Regions from separate parts of the Homo sapiens genome. Here all the other regions are reported to be linked to region 1. The links are microRNA targets in miRTarBase. Many come from high-throughput screens and were not tested one by one. Region 1 holds a microRNA gene; each other region holds the end of a gene's coding sequence.

Region 1 (8,265 bases):
CTGGACTTGACACCCTCCAAGGGGGCAGGTGAGGAGGGAGAGACAGAGGCAGAGCCCAAGAGCCCAGAGCCTCACCCGGCCTCTGTCCCGCTACAGCTGCTGGCCTCAGGCACTTAGGCAGTGGGCGGGGTCGGGGGCACTCCTAGAGCTCCGGCAGAGTCATCCGAGTTCAGCCTCTCCATGGGACAGCTGAGAACGCGGACTATTTATACTGGCGTGGTGGGCGGGCGGGCAGCTGGGGAGACACATGCAGCCCTGGAGCCATATCTGGGCATGACAGAGGGCATCGGCTTGCCAGGACAACAAGCGCCACACGGTGCAACTGTCCTGGGCGTCCTTCAACCTCAAAACATCCCCACGGGGCCCCCCGGGGACAGGTTCCAGGGACAGCTGCCTTCTACCCCCTCTCCTGCCGCTGTTAAAAATATTCTGGGTCATTGTCCCAGTCATCCCAGAAATCGTCCTCCGTGCATGCCCATGCAAACACACACACACACACACACCTGCCTCCAGTCCCAGCCAAGGAGTCGCTCGACCCTGTGAGGAGTGGACCCCAGTCTCCCACCGCCAAGGCTTCTGGGTGACCACCTCCTGGCCAGGGAGCAGCCAGTGACCTCTGCACCCAGCACTCCTGAAACAGGGCTCTTTCTCCCATGTTCTCTCCCTGGGGTAGACACAGGAGGCCTGAGAGGCCCAGTGTCCCCCCCAGCATCTCTGTCCTTCAGCATCACACACTTGCACCCCAATGGGGCAGCCCGCCTGGTGCAGGGAGCAGACCTGGCCTGAGGCTTAGTGGTGCCTCTGAAACCTGGGTGAATCAGTCGAGCTCACAGTGCCTTTGCAGTGACCGCTGTGTGGGAACCTCGGCCCTGTGTCCCTCTATCTAAGGGAGCCAGCGGTGGAGCTGCCAGAGGTGGCCCTCTGATCCCTGCCCTTGAGACGCGCAGCCCTGCATGCTTCCTGCGGTGTTCTGCAGCATCCCAGGCGGCAGCTCGGCAGCAGCCTGCCCCACTCCTCTGCTGCAGTCACCGCCCCTCCCCACTCAGCAGGACGGGCTTCCAGGGGTCAGAGCCGGCTGGGGACTCTGAGCACTAAAGGCAGAGTCCTCCCCAAAGGCAGAGTCCTCCCTGGGCACCCAGGGGCCTCCGGGGAGGGCCCTCCCAGCCCCAAGCTCTGGCCAGCTGGGCCTGGGACCTCAGGAAGGAGCAGACAGCACGAGGCTCTGGGAGCTGCTGATACTGTCTGCGGGTGCCTTCCCTTCCCAAAAGCCATGCCCAGCTCTTCCTGGGTGCGATGCCTCCAGTTCACAGGGACAGAGGCTGCTGGTTGGCCAAGGACAGTGGGCAAGGCCAGGGCCCCTCACAAAGCCCTGTGCTCCTGTCCAAGAGCCTCCCTTGCTGGGGCCCAAGCCCAGCCACCCCGAGGTCAGCATCCTGCCCGGGGGCATCAAAGGCAGGAGCAGGGCTGCAGAGAGCACGGGAGGCCTCTGCAGTCGGACGTGCACGGCGGGGCTGAGTCAGCACAAAATCCCTCAGGTTGCTGGGTTACCCTTCATGCGAAGGTGGCAGCGACTCACGGCATTGCACCGCCCCGCCCACCTCTGGCCATCCCTGCCCAGAAACCCTTCAGGCCAGCACTGCCCAGCCACGCCCTGGCCCTGAAGATGGCTCGGGCCACTCAGGTTCTCTCATTTTTACTTTAGAGCATTTTTTGGGTAAAATTTGCAATTCGAGTGATGTTCATTTTGATTGACTCCGGCTGCGGCATCTAAAATATCTGTCCTGTGGGTCAATCTAATCATGCTTGATAGCAGTTTATTCTTCGACGCAACGTTCCCCATGTGAGCCCGACAGTTTCACAGAGACTGCCGACGCACCTCTCGCGAATGCTCTCACCAGCCGCTGCGCCTGCTTTGAATGCTTGTGCAATAAAACACTGTATTGCACTTGAATGCACTACTAAGCCAGAATCACCAAAGGCCCCCTCTTTAGAAGGGGGTGCCACTATGTCCTCGGCCCCCTGGCTGCAGAAATGCAAGACCACTCATCGTGACACACGCGTGCAGGCACAGCAGCGGGGCCGTCCCTTCCCAAAGACCGTCCTTCTCCTGCGTGCAAGCTCCAGGACCCAGAGCCGGTCTCACTCACGGGTGGAAACAGTGCCTGGAGCATAGCTAGCTTTTGTGAGCCATAGGATAGAAAAAGGTAACTAATTTGGTCCGCTGAATTTATGAGCTCCACAATTTCTGCAGCGGCTGTTTCCACGAGCGGGAGCCTGGCCCAGCCTCTGATCACCGTGGGGCAGTTTCCAGAGTGTTCTGGGAAACCCAGAAGCCTACACCTGGTGCTACCTGCTCTAGGGAGTGAGAGACACCGGCACTGGCCACCTCCTCATGGCCACACAAACCCACCTGGGTTCCCGAGCTGGCAGGCGAGGGGGTGGGTGTCCCATGTCCAGCCCCCTCAGCCCAGTCCAGGCTCATTTCCCTCTGAGAGTCCCGGCCCCCATGGTAGCGTGCCTAAGCCGTCTCAGGAGAGTCCCTGCGGGCAAGACATAGCCAGTGAGGGTCTGTGCCCCCGCCCTGCCTGCTCTCCCCTCCTTCAAACGGACAGGCACAAAGACCCCCACAGGGGAAAGTCCCAGCGTGTCCATGCCCCACGCCAGTTTGGGGTTCCCGTCCTGGCTGCTGCCCGGGAGCCAAGCTTTAGAGATTCACGCATGGGAGACTCCAGCCCCGGGTCCCAGTGTCTCCAGGAAAGCAGCAGGATCCCCAGGGAGCACCATCAGGCCACACGTGCAGGGGAGAGGGGCTCGGGCTGCCATGGGCGGTGTCCGTGCAATGCTCATTTTTAATTCAGCAGATCAGAGACTGGAGGTGATTTACCGCCAAGCAGGCCGCAGCTCTCTCCCTGTGAACTCTCCAGTTTTACTGCTCAGTCAAACCTAATTCCAAAACACTAATGCTTTTATTTAAACACCACATCCTGCAATAAAGCTTTAATGTACAACAGCCGCATCTAGGGGAAAAGAACGGTGTGTCTGTGGCCACCGGCAGCCTCGGTGGCCACACGCCCGGCTACTTCCCTCCCTGTGGCCGGAGCTGGGAGCAGGCAGGGAAGAGATGACGTCAGCGGATGCTGGGCACTGACCCTCCGGGTCCAGAGGCCGAGAGGAGGCTGTGCCCGAGGTCAACACCCGCCCCCTTGCTGCTACGCCAGATGGGGCTGAGGCTGGGAGAACGAAGTTTCCAGAAGGAAGACCTGAAGGCCAGGAGCCCTGACTGCCAGGCCCTCCCCTCCAGTCACCTCGAGGCTCCCTGAGGGGTGGGAGCCACCTGAAAGCTCAGAACGGCCCCCAATCCCTTTATCCAGCGCTCCCTATGCTGGCCCCAGCTGCTCAGGTGACCTGGCTGCCCCCAGACCCAAGGCCTCCAGCCGCTGCAGGAGGGGGCTGCCTGCCTGTCCCTTCCCGCCTCATTCCTGCCGAAGGCCAGGGTGCGGGAGGTAGGGCACAGGGGCACCGCTGTGGCTGGAGCAGTGCCAAGGCAGAGAGGACACACACCCCAGAAATTAATCCTGAGGCCTGTGGCAGGGTGGGGGTGCCCAGGCAGGGACCTGGCCTCATCCCAGGTGGCAAACGCCTCCAATCTGAGACTCAGAAACGAGCCGGGCAAACGCCCCTCACACAGCAGCCCAGCCGCTGCCTAAGACCCCAGAACCCGCCGCCCATCCTCTCCTTGAAGGACCAGCACTGGGGAAAAGGGTTTCACGGACGGATCCGGACCTGCCCTCATCCCCTGGGCCCCAGGACATCCTCCCAGTCCTTTCTCGGGTCAGGACTGGGATGGCGGCAGAGCAGATGGCTCTCAGGCCCCCGACAGGTGGGGCAAGGGGCCCTGGGCCACACGCTGCTTTCTGCCAAAGCCTCACCTGCATTCACAGCAAAACATGCCTCAGGTTGGATTCGGCGGAACAGAGAGAAAGCTGAACCGGGGCTTTGGTGGGGGTACAGGTTGGGGCGGCATGAACCAGACATTTGGCAAAATCGAACGGCTCCCAGGCCCCTGGGGTGGGCTGTGGGTTCAGGGCTGCACAGACTCAGCTCCTCTGACCCTGTCCCAGGTGCCCTCGGCAGAGGAGTGGGGCCTAAGGGCAGTGGTGGCCCTGACCCTGCCCGCGTCCCCAGCATCTCGTGTGGGCTGCGCCTTCCTTGGAGGCTACATGCCTCCGAGTTCCTCTGCCTTGCCCTACAGCCGGGAGGGCTGGATGCAGGTGCAGGAGGTGCCTTCCCTCCGCAGACTCTACCATGTGCTGCCCAGCCTCTCCCTCCTTTCTGCATCCAGCCACCTGCCCTTTTCCAAACTCGCTCTTGTCTTGTGCCTCTGAGCAGTTTCTGCCCTGGCCACACGTGGCCCTTTCTGCCGGCTGATGGCCTCTTCCAGGATGGCCATCAGTGGAGCCCCCAGAGCCGCCGCCACCACTCCGTGCTTTCCAGCCACGGCCCCGACCCCCCAGCCCTCACCAGCCCCGCGCTGGACCCCGCGCCTGCCGGAGGCCGCCTCCCCTCTGCCGCAGTCAGCAAGCTGAATATTTAATGTCTGGTGAGCACTTCCACCTGCTGACACAGGCAAAGTGACAGAACAATGCTGGCGGGGACACGACCGTCCACCAACGCCCAGGCAGCCTGCCGCCCCAGCCTCACCCCCACCACAGCCGCCTGGCTGGCTGTCGGCCGCGGCGGCCCCCGTGGTGTGGAGTGCCCCTCAGTGCGGCGAGAGAGGTCCCGGCCTGAGATACATACTTCTTTACATTCCATAGCTTAGCAGGTCCATATGGGCATATAAAGAAGTATGTTTCCCAAGCAGGCAGTCTGCATGCAGTTCCAAGACCCCGGGACGCCGCCCCGGTAGAAGCTGACCCCACTGCGATGTAGAGAAGGCAGCTCAGAGGCAGTGTAACTTCTTCCCTGGAGTCTACTGCCGGAGCCCTCTCTGTGTGAGCAGGACAGCCTTCCTGCCACTGCTGCCTGGTGTCCAGCCACCCCCAGGGGCCCAGGACTCCCTGCCCCCTTCTGACCTCGGCGCCCCTCCATCCCTGAATCCATCTCTCTCTGTCTGTCTCACACACTCACACGATCCAGAAAGGCAGAAGTGGACAGTGAGCCCCAGAAAGTCTCGAGCGCCTGTCCCTGGCCCCAGCAGTAGCTCGGTTTTGCGTCCATGGAAGAGACAGGCTGCCCCTCCACCCTCACCCCAGAGCAGGGAGGCATCATCCATGTCCCAAACTTTCAAAGCCAACACTTTCCTGTCCCCCTGGGTCACCTCATCCCAGCCAAGCCCAGAGAGGGCTGGGTGGAGAGAGGAACCTTGGGGGGCGCCCTGCCCAGCACCCCACTCGCAGGACCAGCCTCCTCCTTCTCCGGGAGCTGGACAACTCCTTGCTCCTGAGGCCAGACGAGGAACTGCAGACCAGAGACCCGAGAGGTGTCCTGGGGGCTTACCTGGGCATCTGCTGGTTTCCTGGGCAGGTCCCTGGTGAAGGCTGCCTCCCGGGACCCCGTATCCATGAGGAAGGGCTCAGCACCTCTCTCCGAAGATGCAGGCGAGAAAGACGATGCTTGGAGGAGTCCAGGTTCCCAGAGGGTGGTCAGGATCTCCTGAGAGGCCGTCCACTAGGGGGGCAACTCCCTAGGTGCCTCAGCCTGGCCACAGCAGACACCCAGTGGGCGAGGGAGCGTCGCTCCCCCGGTTCTCTCCCTCCTTCTCTCGCTCTTCTTCACCCTCTCCCCCGTCCCCGCCTCGCAGCGTCACCACCCTGAACCGCCGCGCAGTGCGGCCCACCTGAAGCGGCAGCTGCGCAGAGCCAGCAGCTTACATGGGCACCGGGGGTCAGCAGCCACCGTCACCTGCCCAGCGCCACTGCCGTGGCACCCCCGGGAGGCTGGTCCCACACCTGGCTCTTTGTGGCCAGCCGCCCAGCCTCCACCAGCCCCTGATCAATACCAATTTACAGTCAAATGCAGGGGGCCGCCTTCCTGTTAATGAATTTCCCGGTGCTCACCAGCTCCTAATGAGCCTGTTAAAGAGGGTTTAAGTAAACTTAGCGAGTGGCAAACTAAGCACTTTGGAATACTTAATTGTATCGATATGTTTTTCATTGCGTTTAAAAATGTCTCTGAGTGGGAAGCAGAGGCTGCCTCCTTCCCTGCCAACTTCTATGACCAGCCGTGAAGCCAGACTCTGAAAAATGTGGAGAAAGAGCCAGAAGGAGACCAATGGGACCTCAAGGTTAGGCCCTCACCAGCAGGAAGGGAAGCCGCCCCGAACCTGCTGGGAGCGGGGAGAGGAGGAGGAGGAGGAGGAGGAGGCCTGCAGGGTTTCGAGGCCTCGCAGTGGCCCAGGGCGAGCCTGGCACGTGCGGTGGTGAGAGGTGGAAAGAAGGCTTTGCAGGTGCCTGGGGGGGACGGGGGCCAGGGAGGCGCCAGTTGGGGGTGCAGGCCGGGCACAGACACAGGAGGCTTGCTAAGCGGTGGGGTCCAGCTGGGCCCTGGCCCCTGTCCTGCCACTGACCCTGGCGTGGGGTGGGACAGCAGCCCCGGGACATGAAAGGACCTCCCGTTGTCCTCATCAGGAAGAGAGGTCCAACATGACTCTGTTGCTCCTCCAGGCAGCCCGTCCATGCGAGGGGACAGCCCGGAGCGAGTTGGTTCTCTCTTACCACCCAGGGCAGGGCAATGTCTCCGCAGAGCCTGCAGTGTGCAGAGGCCACTGAGCATGCTGTGGCTGTGTGGCAGTGGGTCTGCAGCTGGGCATGGCTGGGTTGGAGTTTCACGTGGGGGTGGGTGGGGGCGGGGGGTGGGGGTTGTGCTTAAGGCTCTGGAGGCATCCCCTCTACAAAGGAAGGAGCAAATGGCAGACAGAAGCAGAAGCTGATGTCCCATTTCCACGTAGCTGCTGTGATTTATCATTTTCACGTAGCCAAGGATACAAAAAGGGCACCCGACACCGCAGCCTGAGCTTCAACTTCGGGGGCACCTGGGTTCCGCCGCTCATCTGTGCCCTCCCAAGACCTCCGCAATAACCGTCCCCGGAGTCCAGGGAAAAGGCCTCCTCAACGTCCCCAGCTCCCTGGCACATGAGCTCTCAGAGCCTGGGACACTCCCGCAGCCTGGCTCAAGCCCCCACGACCTGTGAGGCATTCATCTGGACGGGGTCTGGGGGTCAAGGGGAAAGCTGGGAGTCCCAAAGGGCAGGAGAGTCACCCCAGACCCAGCCAGAGTCCACAGGACTTCTGCCCACTCACAAATGAATTGTAGTCACTTTTCAAAAAGTTTCCCGTCTGCATAGAAAAAGAGCACCCAGCCGCCTCCAAGCAGACCCCACCGTGAGCCGAGCTGGCTCCTGTGCCCGGGGCCTCCTCCGGGGCTCTTCAGCGGTGAATACCGCCCGGCCCCCGGCATCAGCGCCGCGGGAGGCCACGCGGGAAGTCAAGCTCCCCAGCAGGGACCTGCACAGACGCCGACCACCAGGGCTGCTCTCCCCGAAGCCCCCCTAGTCTCCGCCCACATGTGCCCCCCGCCCCCCACCTCGCCGCCCTGCCCCTGTAAACGCCTCCTGACCCTGACGTGGCTGGGAGAGCTGCAGAAGTGCCGAGTCCCGGCCGGGGGCAGCCTCGCCGCCGCTCAGCTCGGGAATCCCTGCCCCCCACCAGCACCTCAGTGGGGGATACTGCAAGTTCAAGGTAAGTTTAGCCCCACGCCCGGCTGCCGGGGCTTTGTTGCGGAGCGGCAGGTGAATCGCGCCCCCAGCCCAGCCCCGAAGCCCCCATGCCATCCACTGCCCGCGTGGGGGGCCGCTGCTTTCTTGCAAAATGCCCGCAAGTCAAAGTTCCTGCCTCCCAGCTGGACGCGCCCTCCAGGCCCTGCCGGCTGCTGGCTCTGCAGTTTTCCAAATGTGGATGATGCCGCGAGCCAAGAGAAAACTCCACGGCACCCCCGCCGGAGCCGCACGGCGCCGGCACCCGCAGCACCCACCTCGCTGGCAGGCACACCCCCCACCGCGGTGCCCGGCAAGTTTGCAGGGGCCGTCCCGGCGGCCCAGCGGTGGTGATGGGCTGAGCAGGACTCACCGCGGAGCCCAGGGCACCCCTGGGGCCGGGCTGGTGACAGCGGCAGCGGCGGCGGGCGCAGGGTCGCGGCTCCCTAGGAGATGCTGCAGCGGCGGCAGCACCAGCCACCTCCTCCGGGAGCCAATCGCGAATGCAGGGG
Region 2 (3,421 bases), not on the chromosome of region 1:
GCGGGAGTGGGGTCCCCAGGGCTGGGGGCCTTTGGTGCAGTGACCAGAGTGTCAGGAGAGGGGAGCAAAGCCCTCTAGCCTCATCCTCATAAAAGGTCTCATCATTTTCCCTCCAGCCTCTTATGCACTGGGGAAACTGAGGCCAGGGGCTATGTGTCCAGCGGACAGGGGTGCTGAATTCCACCCACAGGCTTAGGGATATGGTCAAGGAAAGCTTCCTGGAGGAGGCCCAGTGGAGGTTCAGGGAGGGATGGGGTGCCCGGCAGTCTCTAGTGGAAAAGGCGCCTAGCCTATCTCCCCCATGAACCCCCTCACCCAGCCCTGGAAGAGGCCTCAGTGTCCCGCCTGTGACCAGTTGGCTCAGAAAAGCCCTGGGAGCTCTGAGCCACTGTGAAGGTGGAAACGCGGCCCCTGGCCTCCCCTCTCCTGGAGGCTGCAGACTCTGCCCGCCAGTTGACGAGGGCTCTGCCGCTCTCCTCCCCAGGAGCTATGCCTCACGCATCCAGCGCCCCTTCTCCGTGAAGTTCGACCCGTACACGCTGGCCATCGACGTGCTGGACAGCCCCCAGGCCGTGCGGCGCTCCCTGGAGGGTGTCCAGGATGAGCTGGACACCCTTGCCCATGCGCTGAGTGCCATTGGCTAGGTGCACGGCGTCCCTGAGGGCCCTTCCCAACCTCCCCTGGTCCTGCACTGTCCCGGAGCTCAGGCCCTGGTGAGGGGCTGGGTCCCGGGTGCCCCCCATGCCCTCCCTGCTGCCAGGCTCCCACTGCCCCTGCACCTGCTTCTCAGCGCAACAGCTGTGTGTGCCCGTGGTGAGGTTGTGCTGCCTGTGGTGAGGTCCTGTCCTGGCTCCCAGGGTCCTGGGGGCTGCTGCACTGCCCTCCGCCCTTCCCTGACACTGTCTGCTGCCCCAATCACCGTCACAATAAAAGAAACTGTGGTCTCTACACCTGCCTGGCCCCACATCTGTGCCACAGAGACAGACCCTGGGATCCTCAGACTCCCACACCCCCACCCCAGCCTCACTCAGAGGTTTCGCCCTGGCCTCCTTCCTCCTCTGGGAGATGGCTGGCCGCCCTGGCCAGGCAGCTGGCCCCTCCGGGCCTGGTTTCCCCGCTCACCCTGAGGCCCCGCCCAGCTCTGAGCCCCAAGCAGCTCCAGAGGCTCGGGCACCCTGGCCGAGCTGCCCCATCTCCGTGGGGTGCCCTCCCAAGGTGGGGAGCCACGTGACAGTGGGAGGGCCTCTCTCAGGCCTGGCAGGGAGCAGGGGTCACAAACTGTGCTGGCTGGGGGTGGTCTCAGAGGTGGGCCTGCAGGCCTAACCCTCCCTGCTGACAGGGCTCCCAGCCCTTGAGAGAAACAGGGATGGAGGAACAGCTGCCCTGATGCCCTCACCCACCCGGAGCAGGCCCTGCGAACCAAGGGGAACCTCAGTGTGGCCCCCAGCATGTGTGCTGATGGGGAGGGTCTGGCTGAGCTGGTGCCCAGGCAGATGGTCTGGGCCTGTCTCCCCAGCGAGGCAGGATGGGGGCTGGATTTCAGACTCTGTAAGATGCCCCTGGCTTACTCGAGGGGCCTGGACATTGCCCTCCAGAGAGAGCACCCAACACCCTCCAGGCTTGACCGGCCAGGGTGTCCCCTTCCTACCTTGGAGAGAGCAGCCCCAGGGCATCCTGCAGGGGGTGCTGGGACACCAGCTGGCCTTCAAGGTCTCTGCCTCCCTCCAGCCACCCCACTACACGCTGCTGGGATCCTGGATCTCAGCTCCCCGGCCGACAACACTGGCAAACTCCTACTCATCCACGAAGGCCCTCCTGGGCATGGTGGTCCTTCCCAGCCTGGCAGTCTGTTCCTCACACACCTTGTTAGTGCCCAGCCCCTGAGGTTGCAGCTGGGGGTGTCTCTGAAGGGCTGTGAGCCCCCAGGAAGCCCTGGGGAAGTGCCTGCCTTGCCTCCCCCCGGCCCTGCCAGCGCCTGGCTCTGCCCTCCTACCTGGGCTCCCCCCATCCAGCCTCCCTCCCTACACACTCCTCTCAAGGAGGCACCCATGTCCTCTCCAGCTGCCGGGCCTCAGAGCACTGTGGCGTCCTGGGGCAGCCACCGCATGTCCTGCTGTGGCATGGCTCAGGGTGGAAAGGGCGGAAGGGAGGGGTCCTGCAGATAGCTGGTGCCCACTACCAAACCCGCTCGGGGCAGGAGAGCCAAAGGCTGGGTGTGTGCAGAGCGGCCCCGAGAGGTTCCGAGGCTGAGGCCAGGGTGGGACATAGGGATGCGAGGGGCCGGGGCACAGGATACTCCAACCTGCCTGCCCCCATGGTCTCATCCTCCTGCTTCTGGGACCTCCTGATCCTGCCCCTGGTGCTAAGAGGCAGGTAGGGGCTGCAGGCAGCAGGGCTCGGAGCCCATGCCCCCTCACCATGGGTCAGGCTGGACCTCCAGGTGCCTGTTCTGGGGAGCTGGGAGGGCCGGAGGGGTGTACCCCAGGGGCTCAGCCCAGATGACACTATGGGGGTGATGGTGTCATGGGACCTGGCCAGGAGAGGGGAGATGGGCTCCCAGAAGAGGAGTGGGGGCTGAGAGGGTGCCTGGGGGGCCAGGACGGAGCTGGGCCAGTGCACAGCTTCCCACACCTGCCCACCCCCAGAGTCCTGCCGCCACCCCCAGATCACACGGAAGATGAGGTCCGAGTGGCCTGCTGAGGACTTGCTGCTTGTCCCCAGGTCCCCAGGTCATGCCCTCCTTCTGCCACCCTGGGGAGCTGAGGGCCTCAGCTGGGGCTGCTGTCCTAAGGCAGGGTGGGAACTAGGCAGCCAGCAGGGAGGGGACCCCTCCCTCACTCCCACTCTCCCACCCCCACCACCTTGGCCCATCCATGGCGGCATCTTGGGCCATCCGGGACTGGGGACAGGGGTCCTGGGGACAGGGGTGTGGGGACAGGGGTCCTGGGGACAGGGGTCTGGGGACAGGGGTCCTGGGGACAGGGGTGTGGGGACAGGGGTGTGGGGACAGGGGTGTGGGGACAGGGGTCCTGGGGACAGGGGTCTGGGGACAGGGGTCTGAGGACAGGGGTGTGGGGACAGGGGTGTGGGGACAGGGGTGTGGGGACAGGGGTGTGGGGACAGGGGTCTGGGGACAGGGGTCCGGGGGACAGGGGTGTGGGGACAGGGGTGTGGGGACAGGGGTGTGGGGACAGGGGTCTGGGGACAGGGGTGTGGGGACAGGGGTCCTGGGGACAGGGGTGTGGGGATAGGGGTGTGGGGACAGGGGTGTGGGGACAGGGGTGTGGGGACAGGGGTCTGGGGACAGCAGCGCAAAGAGCCCCGCCCTGCAGCCTCCAGCTCTCCTGGTCTAATGTGGAAAGTGGCCCAGGTGAGGGCTTTGCTCTCCTGGAGACATTTGCCCCCAGCTGTGAGCAGGGAC
Region 3 (8,265 bases), not on the chromosome of region 1:
TCTGGCAGAGGACTCATCTGTCAGGGAGCCTCCGGTTGAGCACCAGAAGGGAACATGGCAATGAGGATCACTGATAGGCACAGGAAGACTGAAAGGACCTTCCACACTACCCTAGACAACCTGTTTTTATTATCTCATCCTAGAACCACACTGGAGTTTTTTTGGACACATTAACAGTTCCTGGCATAATAAACTTTTTTTTTATTTTAAATTTTAAGAGACAAGGTATTGCCACATTGCCCAGACTGGTCTCAAACTCTTGGGCTTAAGTGATCTGCCCTCCTCAGCCTCCTAAAGTGCTGGGATTACATGGGTGTGGCACCACACCTGGCCCTCCTGGCATAATAAACTTTATTTTTTGAGACAGAATCTTGCTCTGTTGCCCAGGCTGGAGTGCAATGGTGTGATCTCGACTCACTGCAACCTCTGTCTCCCAGGTTCAAGTGATTCTCCCGCCTCAGCCTCCCGAGTAGCTGGGATTACAGGCACGTGCCACCATGCCCAGCTAATTTTTTTATTTTTAGTAGAGGCGGGGTTTCACCACATTGGCCAGGCTGGTCTCGAACTCCTGATCTCAGCTGATTTACCCACCTAGGCCTCCCAAAGTGTTGGGATTACAGGTGTGAGCCACCACACCCAGCCATTAAACTCTTAGTAGCACACAATACTGTTAGTGACAGCACAGTACTCTATAGTCCTCAACTCTGCACAGATGTTATTATCAATCTGCATTTATTGAAATGTTACATTTAGATTCTGCTCATTTTTATAGTTTGTAATGGTATTTGTTTGGATCCTAAATTTGGATTCTAAATTGTCATCCTTCCTAAGGGTTTCTTATTATCTAAAAATTTGATCAGCACTCCTAATTTACTAGTACTATCTCTTGTGTAAATGGCTTCAAATTCTTTTGTGGAATGGGTAAGGCATAAAAAAAGTCATCTGTCACTAATATCAAAGGAGGGGCCAAGGACACAGCCCTGGGGGAACTTACCAGGTCAACCCACAATGGGTGAATTTATAGTTTGTTAGTTAGTGGTCAGTTACCAACTTCTCTGTCTGTCTAATGCTTTGACTAAAATGTCCAGATTATTTACCTAGTTAACAAAATTAAAGAAGATTCTAAGACCAGTTTAGCATCATTTTCTCTGAAGTCCATAATGAATGTCTGTTAAACTCTCGTCACTCTTATTTAGGTGCTTTTGGGTCATTTGTTGTAGGTTCATTCTCCCAAATCAATGTCACATATACGTCTGTAACTTGTGTTATCAGCTTCCTTCCTAGGGCTTTAACTTCTTTTCAGTCTTATAGCATTCCTTCCATTTTCCTTTCAGTTCACTCCAATAAAAGCTCGACAAACTCCTGGGAGCCCCTTGGTGCCCCAGCTGCTGTTTACCAGTCAGGAGACTAAAATGTCTCAGAGCAGCTAAGTGCTCTTTTTTATTTTTACCTCATTTGTCTTACCTTGAACTTTTTAGTTCCTTGTAACCACTTAGCCCTGCCCTTTTCAGACTGAAGCTAGTTCTCTTTGGCCAAAGACAGGAGACAAAATATGGTCTAGAGTTTCTGTCAACATGTACTGGCCTCCAACAGATCTTTTTTCTTCCTGCTGACACTGGACACAGTCTCTCCACTCTTTTTCTCATCAACAGAATGGGAATATCCACTCTGTGAACCTGTTATAAAGGTTAAATGGGATAATGTATATGAAAATGCACTGGAAACACAATTAAGTACCTGCACATCGAGGGGTCCAAGACCTTCTGCTCTCACCCACAGCCGAGTATCTGTTAGCCAGGGGTAGCCCTTAAGTGTTACTAGGGCCCTTTCCTCAGGACTCAAGTTCTCCTGAGGCAGGATGCCCAGTCCTCCCCCAAATCAGCATGAGAGCAGAAAGGACCCTTGCCAAAGGATTTAGGACCACTTTTGGCACTAGATATAGAATGTTTGTCTAATTAGCAGACGCAGAGGGACCCCCATCATTCTCAGTCTGTGTGTGGGAGCCTTAAGCCTTCCCAAGCTCAGCAGTTCAATGCTACTGGCATGAGACCATTCTTTTGTGCCAATATCAGAGGCTGACTTGGCCTTATGCCTTTAGCACCAAATCCGACTGGCACTGCCTTGAGATAAACTATGGAGTCTGCAAGGCCGAGGGTGGTTTTCTCAGCACCACTTGGTCAGATCTGCCATCATTTCCCCAGTATCAGCAACTCCCACAATGCCATGTGAAGCAGCAGGGGCACAAGCAGTTAGCCTCAGAACCTGGCTGGCATGGGACGACTGTGAACATGCCCGCAGGCTTCTCAAAGGTAGTAAAAACTTTTAACTCTACTTCTTCCAATCTCAGTCATGGAGGTTGAACACTGGGGACACCTAGTGGCATGAAGAAATTACCAGCTACAATATCCTTGGGGCCATCCCCTTGAGTGGAGATTCAGATTCACTTTATATTCTTTCTCTTTTTTTTTTTTGAGACAGAGTTTCGCTCCTCTTGTTGCCCAGGCTGTAGTGCAATGGTGCGATCTTGGCTTACTGCAACCTCTGCCTCCCAGGTTCAAGCGATTCTCCTGTCTCAGCCTCCCGAGTAGCTGGGATTACAAGTGCATGCCACCATGCCTGGCTAATTTTTGTATTTTTAGTAGAGACAGGGTTTCATCATGTTGGTCAGGCTGGTCTCGAACTCCTGACCTCTGGTGATCCGCTGGCTTCGGCCTCCGTAAGTGCTGGGATTACAGGTGTGACACACCACGCCCAGCCTATATTCTATTTCTTCTTTGTGAGAATATCAATCTAAAGAAATATCCTGTGGTTATTAAAAATGGGGCACCAGATGTGGGCACTACCAAAAAAAGGGGAACACAGGTTTCATCTTTCTCCCCATGATTTGTGTGTGTGTGTGTGTGTGTGTGTGATTGAGTCTTGCCTTGGAATGCAACGGTGTGATATCGGTTCACTGCAACCTCTGCTTCCCAAGTTCAAGCGATTCTCCTGCCTCAGCATCTCAAGTTAACTGGGATTACAGGCATGCACCACCATGCCCAGCTAATTTTTGTATTTTTAGTAGAAATGCAGGTTTCACTGTGTTGGCCAGGCTAGCCTCAAACTCCTGATCTCAAGTGATCCGCCCATCTCAGCCTCCCAAAGTGCTAGGATTACAGGCGTTAGCCACCGCGCCCAGCCTCTCTCCATGATTTTCTAATCCTCATTTACTCTTTGAACCCCAAACAGACTAAACTTCCCAATTAAGGAATCTCCCTTAAAAATATTTGATTAAACAATGCCAGTTCTTTAAGAATCATTTCAGGCTATGTTTGCCAAGACACACTAGAATGTTTAGACAGGCTCCACCTAATCCTTTCCCCCATTACTTTTACTTACCTTCTAAAGGGAATAGAAGGCAAACAGGTGCTGAGACACCTTATACCATGCAACTAAATTCATTTGTAAAGATTACTTTACTGTCCTAGAAAAATACATGTTGCAAATTTGAGGGCTACAACTTAAGCACTTTAGAGGCTTCCTGAGGGAAAGGGGATAACCTTTGAATATCAGACTCTGTGGTAATGTGTGGGAGAGGCATATTAAATATAGTTGGGTCAGGTGGATTTAAAAAAAATCCCTTTTCCCCATTTTTTTTTTTTTTTCTAAAAAAGGAAGATCAAATTGCCATCTGTCTGGCTTATTTTGTGTGTGCATGTATATATAGGAACAGCTTGAGGGGAAGGGTTATGTCATGCAATGAAGCAAAAACAAGACGACCTCCTCTGACAGAGGAGCCTTAGTGTTGTAGAAGAGAAGCAAGGCTGAGGTCACTGGAAAGGCTTAGAATGAAGCTGCTCTTGCCTGTTCCTCCTGAGAACCCAGAGCAGCAGTGGTCCAGGGCACAAAGCATAATGATCTCTCATGAGGATTCCTATCTGAACACATCAGAAGTCCTATGAACATAGATAGGTCTGTTTTAGAATATAAATGGTAGTGACTTCCTGCGCTCCTGAGGCGGGGCAAAATAATCCATAAACACATAATCCTTCTGGGCAATAATGTTTCTGGACTCGCCAGCAGAGGGCTCTAGGAACAGAGGTGGGGGTAGAGTCGGGGAGAAAAAAGGTTCTAGAGATGGCATGTCTTCAGGGGAACTTTGAGAAATGTCCTTTGTTCCAGCATTCCTAAGTGACGGCACCGGTGAGCCTGGTCTGAATTGTCATCAGTGTCACTGCCGAGGCCAAGGGCCAAGGGTCAAGATGCCACTTTAGGTTGAGAAGAAAGTGCATCTCAAGGCCAGTGAGGGCTGCAAAATGGTTTGCGGCTGGCCCAGAAGGAGCAAATGTAGAAAGGCTCCCCTTTTTAGATGCCGATGGTCTGTAGAACTCGCCTCTCATTGTCATTAAGGTGGCCTGAAAACATTATGTAGCAGGGCTGCTGAGCAAACTGGCAGAGGAAATCTGTGAGATATGCCTGGAGGAAAGAGCAAGAGTGGCATTAGTGAGACATTGCAAGTCACCCATTTGCAGTGGAGCAAGAACCACAATCAAATGGCACAGGGAATGCTGGTTTTTAGACAAATGCCAGCTCCCTGAGGGATGGTCTTTCATGTTCTTGGATCTAGTTTAGGTAATCCACAGGGAAACAACATTTTTCCAAGGCTGTATCACCCCAAGGACCTTCACAACATAGCCTCTAGAAGATGAATTACAACACATCAAGTGCAAAGTTCCAGCCCACCCAAAACCCTGGACCACTCAACAAGACAGGAACTCTTTCCCATGAGGCTCCCATGTTAAATTATAAATGGATTTTTTTTTTTTTTTGAACACAGGGTCTTGCTTTGTCGCCCAGGCTCGAGTGCAGTGGTATGATCACAGCTCACTGCAGCCTTGACCTCTTGGCCTCAAGCGATCCTCCCACCTCAGCCTCCCGAGTAGCTGGGACCACGGGGGTGTGCCACTATGCCCAGATAATTTTTAAATTATTTGTAGAGACAGGGTGTCCCTGCATTGCTCAGACTGGTCTTGAACTCCTGGGCTTAAGCAATCCTCCCGCCTTGACCTCCCAAAGTGTTGGGATTACAGGCATGAGCCACCATGCCTGGCTATAAATGGATTTGAGCCCATATTCCTGTTTCCATGGCCTGGGACATTGTCATTTGCAAGATATCTCTGGACACCCTCACCTGCAGATCAATCTGATAGAGAGGATCCTTCAGGGCATCAGGGTCATCTTCCTCATCATCCTCGTAGTAATCCTCCTCTGTTAGACATAGCCAACACAGGGCGGGTCAGGACAAAGGCCCATGATCAGGCCCTGAGTGGTGATATACTACCACATGACTGAGGCGGAAGGTGCAAAAGCCCAAGAAATGTCCCTGTGGGCCCACCTCTCCCCTTTCTTGGGTACCCCACTGTTGGGATCAGTGTGCAAAGAAAAGGTATTTACCATGGCTGTCCTCTTATCAAACAGCTTACCATATTTACTTGTAGCAAGAATGTCAGATAAAAGTTGGCCAGCTAAACCATCCTCCTCCTCCTCCTCTTCCTCCTCCTGGTCCTCCCACATATCATTGGAGTCATCTACTTGGAGATGAAAAGCAGCTAGAGCTAGAGCACATTCATGCATTTTCCCTCCCCAAATCCAAATAGGCCAGAATAGAAGGGCCCCAAAGGCTTCTGCAATGTGGCTTGTAGTCCCCAGTGAAAGAGAATCAGAAATGGCCAAACCCTCCTGGTTAGTCTCAATGAAAGAACCTGGAGATATAAGTGTTGACAGGCTCTTAAGAAGAATCAAACCAAAGAAGGGCTATGTTAGCTTGCCTCCTGGCTGCCTCCCACCCCAGCCTCTGTGAGATTTCATATGGCAGACTGGAGAAGCAGCTCTACATGCCTAGTGCCTAGCATGGTGCCAGCCACAGAGCAGCCATTCCATCAACTTTTTTTTTCAATTAGTGACTCAACAAACCAAGTTGATAATTTGACAATTTGTAACTTGATCTGCCAGGCTAAAAGTCTCCTGGGAGTAAGGGCCTGGTGCACCTTGACTCCACTCTGCAGGAGTGGCCTGGCGAGCGGCATTAGCCTCCATGACGTTGGAGAGCTCGTTGATGATCAGCTTTAGGATCTTGACCAGCAAAGGAATGTTTGTCCAGCGTTCTGGGTCTGGGAAGGAAGAAAAAGGTTTCAAGTCAGAGTGTCACTGAGCTTACTTCTGGAAGTACCCCTGTCCTCTCCTCAGTGCCACTCACCAGAGTTCACCACCCCTCAGACTTTCACTGTACCTGACTATATCCAGTCTCCAAAGAGTGACTTAAAGTTAAATAACTTTATTGTTTGGTATTGTAACAGTTCAGAAGCTGGGAGAGATGAGAGTTCAGGGATTAAAGGAGATACAGTCTTGTTAGTAATAAAGCTCTGAAACCAAGGAACTGTATAGAGCCAGTACTCCAGTCCCAATGACTTAGAATTTGAGAGACAGCGGAGGTAATTATAAATCTACATTAAAGATAGCAGCTCTATACTCCCTACCTGCAAATCATTGGAGTTACAGGCCAAAGGCAACTCAGTAACAAAGACATGCTGACTATCTGTGCCCACGCTTCTGAATGAAGCTGGAAGCTGGGATGCTTGGTGCCTGAGACTATTTTTGTCTTTTTTTTTTCTTCAGACAGAGTTTTGCTCTTATTGCCCAGGCTGGAGTGCAATGGCGTGATCTTGGCTCACTGCAACCTCCACCTCCCGGGTTCAAGCGATTCTCCTGCCTCAGCCTCCCGAGTAGCTGGGATTACAGGCATGCGCCACCATGCCTGGCTAACTTTGTATTTTTGGTAGAGACGGGGTTTCTCTATGTTGGTCAGGCTGGTCTCGAACTCCCGGCCTCAGGCGATCCACCCACCTCGGCCTCCCAAAGTGCTGGGATTACAGGTGTGAGCCACCACGCCTGCATTTTTTTTTTTTTTTTTTTTTTGAGACGGAGTCTCATTTTGTTGTCCAGGCTGGAATGCAGTGGCACGATCTTTGCTCACCGCAACCTCTGCCTCCCAGGTTCAAGCGATTCTCCTGCCTCAGCCTCCCAAGTAGCTGGGATTACAGGCGCCCACCACCATGCCTGGCTAATTTTTGTATTTTTAGTAAAGACGGGATTTCACCATGTTGGTCAGGCTAGTCTCAAACTCCTGACTTCAAGTGATCCATCCGCTCTGGCCTCCCACCAAGTGCTGGGATTACAGGCGTGAGCCACCATGCCCGGCCTATTTTTGTCCATTTTCCACAACAGGAAGAAACCGTATGTTCTGATCCCTTTTACCTAAGTTTCCTGCTTCTTCTTTATCAAACCCATCACCAACAATTGTTTTAAAAATATACACCACAGTGCATTCCTTCCCTTCACCCAGGTATCCTTAGCCCCTTCGTATAGGGAGAGGATTGGAAGAATCGCAGCAGCACCCACTTTTGGCTGACTTAGAGCGGGTGCGGATGCCCTCATCCATGCTGTAGATCTCCTCTCCCTTCACACGGATATCCTGTAGCCGTTTGTCATCTGCATTGATGCCATGCTGGAGCAGCTTACAGAGTGCCACAGAGCTGGCAAGGAAGATCCAAAAAAAGGTCAATCAGCCGCCCATCTCGAGTTCACTCCAAGGAGATAAGCAATTATGTCCTAAGACCCTCTATTTGATAGTGAAAATTCCGTTAACAACTAATTAGGAGAGCTAAGAGAGTTCAGCTGAAAATGAGATTTTAGAGTTCATGAGGTGGTTTAATGAGATCTGTGCTTTTTTGTTGTTGTTGTTGTTGTTGTTGTTTTTGAGATAGGGTCTCATTCTGTCACCCAGGCTGAGTGCAGTGGTGTGATCATGGTTCACTGCAGCCTTGACCTCCCTGGGTTCAGGTGATCCTCCCACCTCAGCCTCCCAAGTAGCTGGGACTATAGGCATGCGCCACCGTGCCTGGCTAATTTTTGTATTTTTTTGGTAGACACAGGTTTCACCATGTTGCCCGGGTGGGTCTCAAGCAATTCGCCCACCTCAGTCTTCCAAAGTGCCGGGATTACAGGTGACCTGTTCTTCTTGAACAAAGCTAAGGTTGCACCATATTGTAAGGTGCAACGAGGTGATAAGAATCAGTGGTATAAAAATCCAGGATAAAAAGTTAGGAAGCCAGGGTTAGAAGGTTGGGTTTTTTATTTTTATTTTTCTGAGACAATTTCGCTCGTCGCCCAGGCTGAAGTGCAATGGCGTGATCTGCCTCCTTGGTTCAAGCGATTCTCCTGCCTTAG
Region 4 (8,265 bases), not on the chromosome of region 1:
TTGGCTCTCGTCAGTAGAGTAGAAGTAGCACTCTCACAGGCAGTACTCGGAATGCTTGCCGCCCACATAAGGGGCTGAGTCAGTAGGCATTATGGCCAGCCTGCCTCAGAGTGGTGACCAGGCAGCCCCCAGACTTGCTTGCTGTGGAAGGGTCAAATGGGTTTGTGGTCGATACACAGCAGCTTGTGTTGACAACCAGATGGGTGCTTTGCCACCTCCATGCCATCCTGTCTGCCAGGGTCTCACTGCCTAGAGCTAGTCCACAAGAACCCTCCTAGTCATGCACAGAGCTGGTTAAGGCTCTCTCTTCAGTGTGATTGGGACCAGTGGTTGGTCAGCCAATTGAGAAAGTACAGAGTACTGTAGACGTATTGTAAACATTGTGCTGTGATTTAACCCGCTAGTGGGTGTTCGTTCGGCTCTCCTATAATGTGGGGTTGAGGTGTTTGCTTTGAGTTGGCTCCTTTGGTTGGAGTCTTCTATTTCTGTCTTGTAGAGACCATCCTCATGACACGTCATTGCACTGCAGTTTCCAGGGGTAAGTCCAAGAGCAGACTTCTAGATTTGGGGACTATAGTCCTCCCATCCTCCCATCTTTTATAGTTTTCTTAATTCCCTGATTTGATGGTAATTTGTAAAAGTAACCTTCCTTTATTTAGTTTTTCCTGTAGTATCTTAGTTGCCATAGAAACTGTGTCTGCCTTTTTCTCATTCACATTTTGACCATTTATGTAATATTAGTTAAATTAGGCAATTATAATAAGTGTGACCTGGAAGCATCCACAGCTGACTCTGGCAAGGACTGAGCTCAATGCAGGAGCAGAGCTCAGCAGGAGCCACAAGAGAGTGGCCTGGTCCTGCAGCCAGGGGACCTCAGCATGACTTGCAGGGGCATCAGAATGTAGATTTTCCATGGGACCTTTTCATTAGGTCAGCTCACAAGTTCTATTGTGTTACATTTGGCTAGTTGGAGTTAACATTACTGAGCATTTTAAAATGTCAGGGCTGTGAAAGTAAATGCCGTAATTCCCTAGTTTTGAAATTTAAACATTGCAAAAATAATCACTTGCTTCCAGTACTGTTACCTGTACCAGATCAGCCCTTAGATTTACGATGGTTTCATTGTACTACTCTGTGCCTTTTGAGTTTTGTCATTCATCATCCTCTGTTGTATTTGAGGCATTAGTGGGTATAAATGCATACTGTAGCCAGAGTGCCTGGGTTTGTGTGCCCTTACTGTCCTTAACTGCTGTGTGCCTCAGTTTGCCCATCTGCAAAATAGGGATAAAAGTGCACTCAGTTGAGTAAGAGCATTCCAATGTATGTAGTGCTGTAAGTGGCTGGAAATGTTCACCTTTGTTACCACTGCGGGTTTCACTTCTGCTCTTCATCCACATGTGCACATCACTAGTGACTAGTTTTTTTTCTTTTCTTTTTTTGTGTGTTTGAGACAGAGTTGCACTCTGTTGCCCAGACTGGATTGCAGTGACAGGATCTCAACTCACTGCAGCCCCCGCCTCCCAGGTTCAAGCAATTTTCATGCCTCAGTATGGGATTACAGGCATGCGCCACTACCCCTGGCTAATTTTTTTTTGGTAATTTTTTAAGAGACAGGGTTTCACTGTGTTGGCCAGGCTGGTCTAAAACTTCCGGCCTCAAGTGATCCACCTGCCTCAGCCTCCCAAAGTGCTGGCATTACAGGTGTGAGCCATCAAGCCTGGCCAGCCAGCCTTTGAACCATTAAAGGAATAGAGGATCAAGGAGGAAAGTTAACGCTATTAATACCTGAGCAGTTTGAAAGCTACTTAGCTACTAGGCATTATAGCTGTGAAGCATGGAAGAGAGCAAACAGTATATTTCCAGTTGTAAATTTTAATCTTGCAAATTAAATACTAAATTTGTCTGTGGTTTGTTTTTTTGAAGTTTTCACCTCTAACATAAATATTTATTTTTTCTCTATAAAGACATGCAGTAAAAAAGAGTAGGCCGGGCCGGGCGTGGTGGCTCATGCCTGTAATCTCAGCACTTTGGGAGGCCGACGCGGGTGGATTACGAGGTCAGGAGATCGAGACCATCCTGGCTAACACGGTGAAACCCCGTCTCTACTAAAAATACAAAAAATTAGCCAGGCGTGGTGGTGGGCGCCTATAGTCCCAGTTACTCAGGAAACTGAGGTGGGAGAATAGCTTGAACCTGGGCGGTGGAAGTTGCAGTGAGCTGAGATCATGCCACTGCACTCCAGCCTGGGGACAGAGCAAGACTCCTTCTCAAAAAAAAAAAAAAGTTATATGTGCAGATTTAAGGCTTAATTTAAAAATTGGTTTGCGTGCATACTAAGAAGCTCATTTGCTTTAAGTGAGCATTTCCTTTTTGGGCTTTTGTTGGGCACTGTGTGTCTCCCATGTTCCCCATTTGTCTGCCACCCAATAAGCATGGTGTCGAGGGCTGAAGTAGAAATCAGAGGCTAGAATCTGAAAGCTTCATTAGGGTTCTGCTTTTTGCAGATTAGGGACTTTGGCCCTTAGTGAGCTGAGGATCTTGGTTTCCTCCCAGTGTGCGGTTTCAGGGATGTCGGCCACATGATGTGCCTGTTGTGGAGGAGGGCTGGGTCGCCAGTGTGACAGGAGACAGCAGATCCCTTTTGTGAAAGGAGAACTGGTACTTTGCGTGATGTTAAACTTCACAAACCGCTGCTCAGAAATCTGCTATTTTCCTTCTCTTTTAGGACTTTATGGACAGCAGCCTGCTAACCAAGTCATCATTCGAGAGCGCTATCGAGACAACGACAGCGACCTGGCACTGGGCATGCTGGCAGGAGCAGCCACGGGCATGGCCTTAGGGTCTCTATTTTGGGTCTTCTAGGGGCCTCAAGGTCTTGATGTGCATAGCTTCTGATAACCCTGTGTGCAATAATATGATTTGCAGGGCATTTCTGTTTGTGACAAAAGTTTTTAATAATAGTTTTAATCATTCCTTTGAAAGTAGTGATGTCATAATTGTACTAATCCACATAAGTACCACAGAGAAGGGTTTGAACTGTGCTATTTTGTTCAAATGTTGACTCTCCGGGGGCACTGGCTCATTCCAAGACTGTTCTTGTGCAACTCTCAGAATACCTTATTTGAGCATACCTGTTTTGAAAGGCATTTTCTTTTTAGAGTTAGGTGTAGTGCTTAAGGGTTAATTTATTTTCATGTTATGCCAGTAATATAGTGTTGTATGCCTATTGAGTGATTGTGGCAAGAAAAGCTACAGCTTCTTTGCGTTTAACTTTTTCAAACCACAGACCAGAACTGGTTGCATGTTACTTTAGGAGTTGTGGGTTGGTAAGCTCCCAGGTACTTCCCGAGGCTATGGTGTGAGAGCCCCCGTCCTGCCCTCTGGGGCTCCACAGGCCCCTGGCAAGGCCGATGGCTCAGGATGATGGGGCACAGCCCGCCTTTGAACAATCATGCTTCAGAAATCTGCCTGACCCTAGCTGCTGCTGCTGCTCACTTTATTCTTGTATGGCTTTGGTAGGCATACTTGGAGAACATATCCCACATTAGGAATTGATTTAAGCCTGAGAGTTTGAGGGCTTTAATCCTTTAAAACTTGGAGAAGCTGGCTGGGCGCGGTGGCTCACGCCTGTAATCCCAGCACTTTGAGAGACCGAGGCGGGCGGATCACGAGGTCAGGAGATCGAGACCATCCTGGCTAACACGGTGAAACCCCATCTCTACTAAAAATACAAAAAATTAGCTGGGCGTGGTGGCAGGCGCCTGTGGTCCCAGCTACTCGGGAGGCTGAGGCAGGAGAATAGTGTGAACCCAGGAGGCGGAGCTTGCAGTGAGCCAAGATAGTGCCACTGCACTTCAGCCTGGGTGACAGAGTGAGACTCTGTCTCAAAAAAAAAAAAAAAATCCTGGAGAAGCCAGAACAATATACAAACAAGTATGTGGAGGCAGATTTGCTTTATTCCAAGAGGCTGTTTGAGTGTGTGTCTGCCTAAGCCTCCTTATAGCCTATTTTTCTACTTGCTGAGAGAGTAATATTAAAGGAACAGTGAGGGAGTGGAAGGAGAGCCTTAGTTAGAGCGTTCCCATTTCTGGCCTTTGGGGGTTTGCACTGTGCGGGAGATGCTCTCTCATCACTCTGAAGGCCCATCCTGTGCAGAAGTGGGACTCTGTGGCTGTTCACTGAGCACCAGGGCAGACTGTAGCTGAGCAGACTTGGGTTATGGATGGGATATGGGGCCCAGGGACCCTCAGGACACAGGGACCGGCTCAAGGTACCACTCAGCCTGGCCAGGACCCCCAGCTTTGCTTTTGTTCTTGATCTCTTTGTGATAGAGAAGCTTAGAACATTGAATTTGGAACCCCAAAATGTGTGAGTCTTTGGAAAACCCATTCCAGCCTTTCTTCAAATGCTCTTATTTTCAGTATATGAAGTGTGTATTTGAAATATTCATATTTCTGTTATTTCTTGTTTTCAAGCTCTGAATTATTGCAGTTTTCTGTCCTGCATGCTTTCAACAGTGTGCTTTTACAGTGGCAGTTTAGCACAGCGAATGTCCCTGCCCCACACTCCATATGGTCCTGTTTTCCTGAAAATACACTCCAGGTAGCACAGACTTGTTATTTTGCCTGGCTGGTTACACACATGCTGTCTTGCTTTGCTGCTCAGCCACCTCCCTCTGAGGCCAACTTAGGCCAACCTACATAGGACTCCATCTTTAGCGAGACACCAGAGACACCTAGTGATGACCACGGGTCTGCTTTTCTCTCTGATCCTAGGGGACTTGTTGACATGGGAGTGTCTGTTTCCACATGGAAGGATGTCTGTTTATCTCTCATCTCTGAATAGATGTATGACAACTCTAGTGTCCATGGTTTAAAATGTTGCTTTGAGGATTTTCCATCCTGTATAAGAAGAATGGCTTTCTTCAGATTATAATCGTTATTAAAGCTGTATGTACACTTTACTTAAAAACTATTAACAGTTTTTCATGTTGCACTGGTGGTAATTTTGAACTTGGAATTACTGGGTGGGAATTCCAGGAACCACAGAGTATTGATTTTTGCTGCCAAAATGCTCTTGAAGCAGATGTCCCTGTGCTCCCCTGGCTGCTTCTGGCTGAAGGGGGGAGGTGTAGACTGAAGCTTGGGCACTCATGTGTGTCCCCTCCCCAGTCCCCATCCTAGTGGGGCCAGTCTCATTAGGCAGCCATAGATAAGCCTGGAACTTGGCTGTCATTAGTGACTTGATCCTGGTATGAAATGCATACTGGGTATAAGGTTGCTCAGGTATTTTATTTCCTTGGCCACAACTCCCATAGATGCCAATGTTTTGATAGCCTCAGTTTCTCAACGATGTCTTTTGTTTACAGTGCTACACTTAGTGTGAGTCAAGAAGTGCTTGAGTTACAAGAAACTTCTTATTCAGGTTTGAGTAAGCATTTTACTTCCATGTGTACTTTTAAATAATCCATACCTTGAAGAAGTTGGCCAATGATATTATATACATGCTGATCTGATTGTTCTTTTCATTCCTTGAGTCAACTTCAGGGTCTTGGATACTAAAGAGAAGGAGAACTGTGGTTAATGTTTTGGATCATCATTTGTGAACAAGGCCAGACTTTGCCCATTTTAGGCTATCCAGGACTTAAGGTAGCCATCTGGATCATAAGAAGGTCCTGCAGTTGAGACAAAATGACCCAAGTGTATTTTCCACAAGTTTTGATCCTGTGTAATATTTCTTTTTCCTTCCCTAGTGTATGTAGATACAAGGCATGGAATGCAGTTCCACTTTCTCCCCAGAGTTGATCTTTTTGTGATTGCTTTCCCGTCTCTAGTAGTATTCTGTTGTGTCTAGAGAACTGATTTTTTCCTACATACGCAAATTGTACATTTGTAAGTGAAAATGTCAATACATTAAAGCATTAACCTTAAAGCATGTTTCATTGTGACTTCTGTTGTCTTTAAAAAATTACTTTGTAGTAACATACTCTCAGCTTTTTCTGCTGTCCTGGATCATAAGAATGCCATTTATTGAGGACCTACCAAATGCTAGTATATTGTCACATTAGAGACAACTCACTGAATTCTTAGTGACTCTGTAAGGGAGGTATTATCCAAGTTCCACTGGAGGGACCGAGGCTCAGAAGTTAAATAATTTACTCAGGAGCGTGCAGGTAGTAGGTCTCCACATCTGATGTTAAAACGCCTTGTTGTTCCCTGTGCCGTGTGCATATGAGAATTTGATTTCCACAAACAGCAGTGGCCCGTGCAGTCACACTCTTGGGATGGCTGTGAGAAAACGGACACTATTTTTCCCAACCAGATCCCTCTGGCAGTGTGTGTCCAATAACTTCTCCAGCATCTTTGGATATATGACTTTTTTGTTTTATTTATTTATTTATTTATTTATTTATTTATTTAGAGACGGAGTCTCACTCTGTTGCCCATGCTGGAGTGCAGTGGCGTCATCTCGGCTCATTGCAAGCTCTGCCTCCTGGGTTCACGCCATTCTTCTGCCTCAGCCTCCCAAGTAGCTGGGATTACAGGTGCCCGCCACCACACCTGGCTAATTTTTTGTATTTTTAGTAGAGATGGGGTTTCACCATGTTAGCCAGGCTGGTCTCAATCTCCCGACCTCATGATCCGCCCGCCTTGGCCTCCCAAAGTATTGGGATTACAGGAGTGAGCCACCACGCTCGACCGAAAAGCTCTATTTCTTGTTCAAGTCGCAGTCCATTGTGGGTTCATAAGGGATGAGAGGCTTCTGCTCCAGGCTGTCATTCAGGGACCAAAACTGCTTTTATCTCTTTGCCTTGGAATCTGCTGTGGGAACTTATACAACCTGCTGGAAGAAAAGACAGTGAAGACACACCCATCCTCAGCTCTGGAGTGGCGCTCCCCTTCCAGTGGTGAGGGCTAATCATGTGGCCTGGGCTCAGTGCTTGAGGTCTGGGAAGTATCGTCTGAACCCAGGAAGAAATGGCCCTCGCCTCAGCTGCTGATAACAGGCCGTAGTTAATGACAGATCATGATCATCAAGTATCGCCAATTCTCGGTGGAAGTTGGGTTTGTATTTACTTTGTACAGTTTTTACTGATTAATAAAGCCAGTGGTTGCAAATTACAAGCAAATTGTTAGTTCACACAACACAAATGTCATTTGGTCACTGATATTTTCGTTGCTGTTAAATCGTTTCTTTCCCCACTTACCAACTGTTGTGGATGGGCCTAGAGAAGATATTCACCCTTTCCAGCAAGGAATATAGTTCCTCCATCCATTTGTCCTTTATTACATTACAGTCATGCTGAGGATGACTGCGTTATTGCCCCTGGTTGTCCTGCTCCCCCTTCCCTGTGAGCGGCCTATAAGTTCCTGCCTGGTGCTGAGAGCCTGCCCATGCCATCTTGCCCACCGGAGGAACAGAGTCCAAGCCTAGCGGGTGGTGTGCCATGCCTGGGGGAAGGGGGTGTGAGTGTGTCATGTTTGAGCAGGTGCTGTAGGAAGCAGAGGGGGCTTCTCCAGCCTTCTCATCCTTTTCACCACTGCAGGAGCTGTCCCTCCTCTGTGGTCCCAGATAAGACTCATGGGGCAGAGCCTTCACAGCTGCCCCTCAGGGGCTCCATGTCACGGAAGGCAGGGGGAGCATTGTTTGCCGTACAGTAAAGCTGACCAGGATGAGCTGCCGCTGGGTGCTGTGCCAGGTGAGGGGGCACAGCAGTCAGCGAGACCATACTTGGGGAGGGGGACAGTGCTCCCACTGCCCAGGCCTCACCAGAGCAAGGGGTCCAGATAACACCACACCACGTGGGGTCCCAGGGTCGGGGCTTGCCCTTCTGAGCCTTTTCATGTCTGTGAATGGCTGGAGGGAAGGGGGTGATACCAAGCCCACAGGGCTGGTAGAGGACTAAGTGACCTGAGTGTGCAGGAAGGCCGAGCACGGTGCTGGGCACACTGAGTCCTCTGCAGATTTGACCCTCTGTTCCTCTTTTCCTGAGCTTCTCTTCTGTTATTTGTAAAACTGGGTGACAGTTCGTGTCTCCATTGCCCTCAAAGGTGAGACCACTCACTTCTTGTTCTCATGGCCAAGGAAGGCCCTGCCACGCCTGAGCTTTGCAGGTGGGAAGGGCTTCCTCTGCCCCTCCAGGGAATGTAAACATGGAGTCTTGGCATTTCTGTGTTCCCCGGACCTTTTATTAGTCTTTGCATAATCCCCCACTTTTACTCTTCTTGCAGAACTTTCTCCCTTCAACCACTAACCTAAGCTGGT

The links. Region 1 holds the annotated microRNA hsa-miR-1-3p (UGGAAUGUAAAGAAGUAUGUAU, at 4,793-4,814, opposite strand). A microRNA usually pairs through its seed, bases 2 to 8, with sites in the 3' UTR of a target mRNA and lowers its output. Matches are read on the target gene's strand: a 7mer-m8 pairs with bases 2 to 8, a 7mer-A1 pairs with bases 2 to 7 and ends in A, and an 8mer does both.
Region 2: the mRNA of TH is a reported target of hsa-miR-1-3p. The part of its 3' UTR that is shown has no 7-base or 8-base seed match.
Region 3: miRTarBase lists IPO9 as a target of hsa-miR-1-3p. Seed matches in the 3' UTR shown: 7mer-A1 at 2,926-2,932 and 7mer-A1 at 914-920.
Region 4: the mRNA of PLEKHB2 is a reported target of hsa-miR-1-3p. Seed matches in the 3' UTR shown: 7mer-A1 at 3,081-3,087 and 7mer-A1 at 4,387-4,393.

The regions. Positions count from the first base shown.
Region 1 is chr20:62,550,900-62,559,164 of GRCh38, reverse strand. It overlaps MIR1-1 (microRNA 1-1), which reads right to left and starts at 4,859; the gene lies at 4,789-4,859. MIR1-1HG (MIR1-1 host gene) reads right to left here. Exons shown (of 4, transcript NR_171007.1): 1 at 8,127-8,265; 2 at 5,500-5,700. CRMA (cardiomyocyte maturation associated lncRNA) reads left to right here and starts at 7,604. Exons shown (of 7, transcript NR_033263.1): 1 at 7,604-7,739. RefSeq lists enhancers at 1-703, 1,574-2,445, 7,750-8,265.
Region 2 is chr11:2,161,456-2,164,876 of GRCh38, reverse strand. TH (tyrosine hydroxylase) reads left to right here. Exons shown (of 13, transcript NM_000360.4): 13 at 485-948. The coding sequence ends at 644. Among named protein-coding and RNA genes, the nearest start is that of INS-IGF2, 2.0 kb to the right of the region's middle.
Region 3 is chr1:201,872,134-201,880,398 of GRCh38, reverse strand. IPO9 (importin 9) reads right to left here. Exons shown (of 24, transcript NM_018085.5): 20 at 7,438-7,571; 21 at 6,027-6,149; 22 at 5,463-5,567; 23 at 5,171-5,247; 24 at 1-4,455. The coding sequence ends at 4,345. Among named protein-coding and RNA genes, the nearest start is that of SHISA4, 13 kb to the left of the region's middle.
Region 4 is chr2:131,143,912-131,152,176 of GRCh38, forward strand. PLEKHB2 (pleckstrin homology domain containing B2) reads left to right here. Exons shown (of 8, transcript NM_001100623.2): 8 at 2,726-5,934. The coding sequence ends at 2,862. Among named protein-coding and RNA genes, the nearest start is that of PLEKHB2, 43 kb to the left of the region's middle.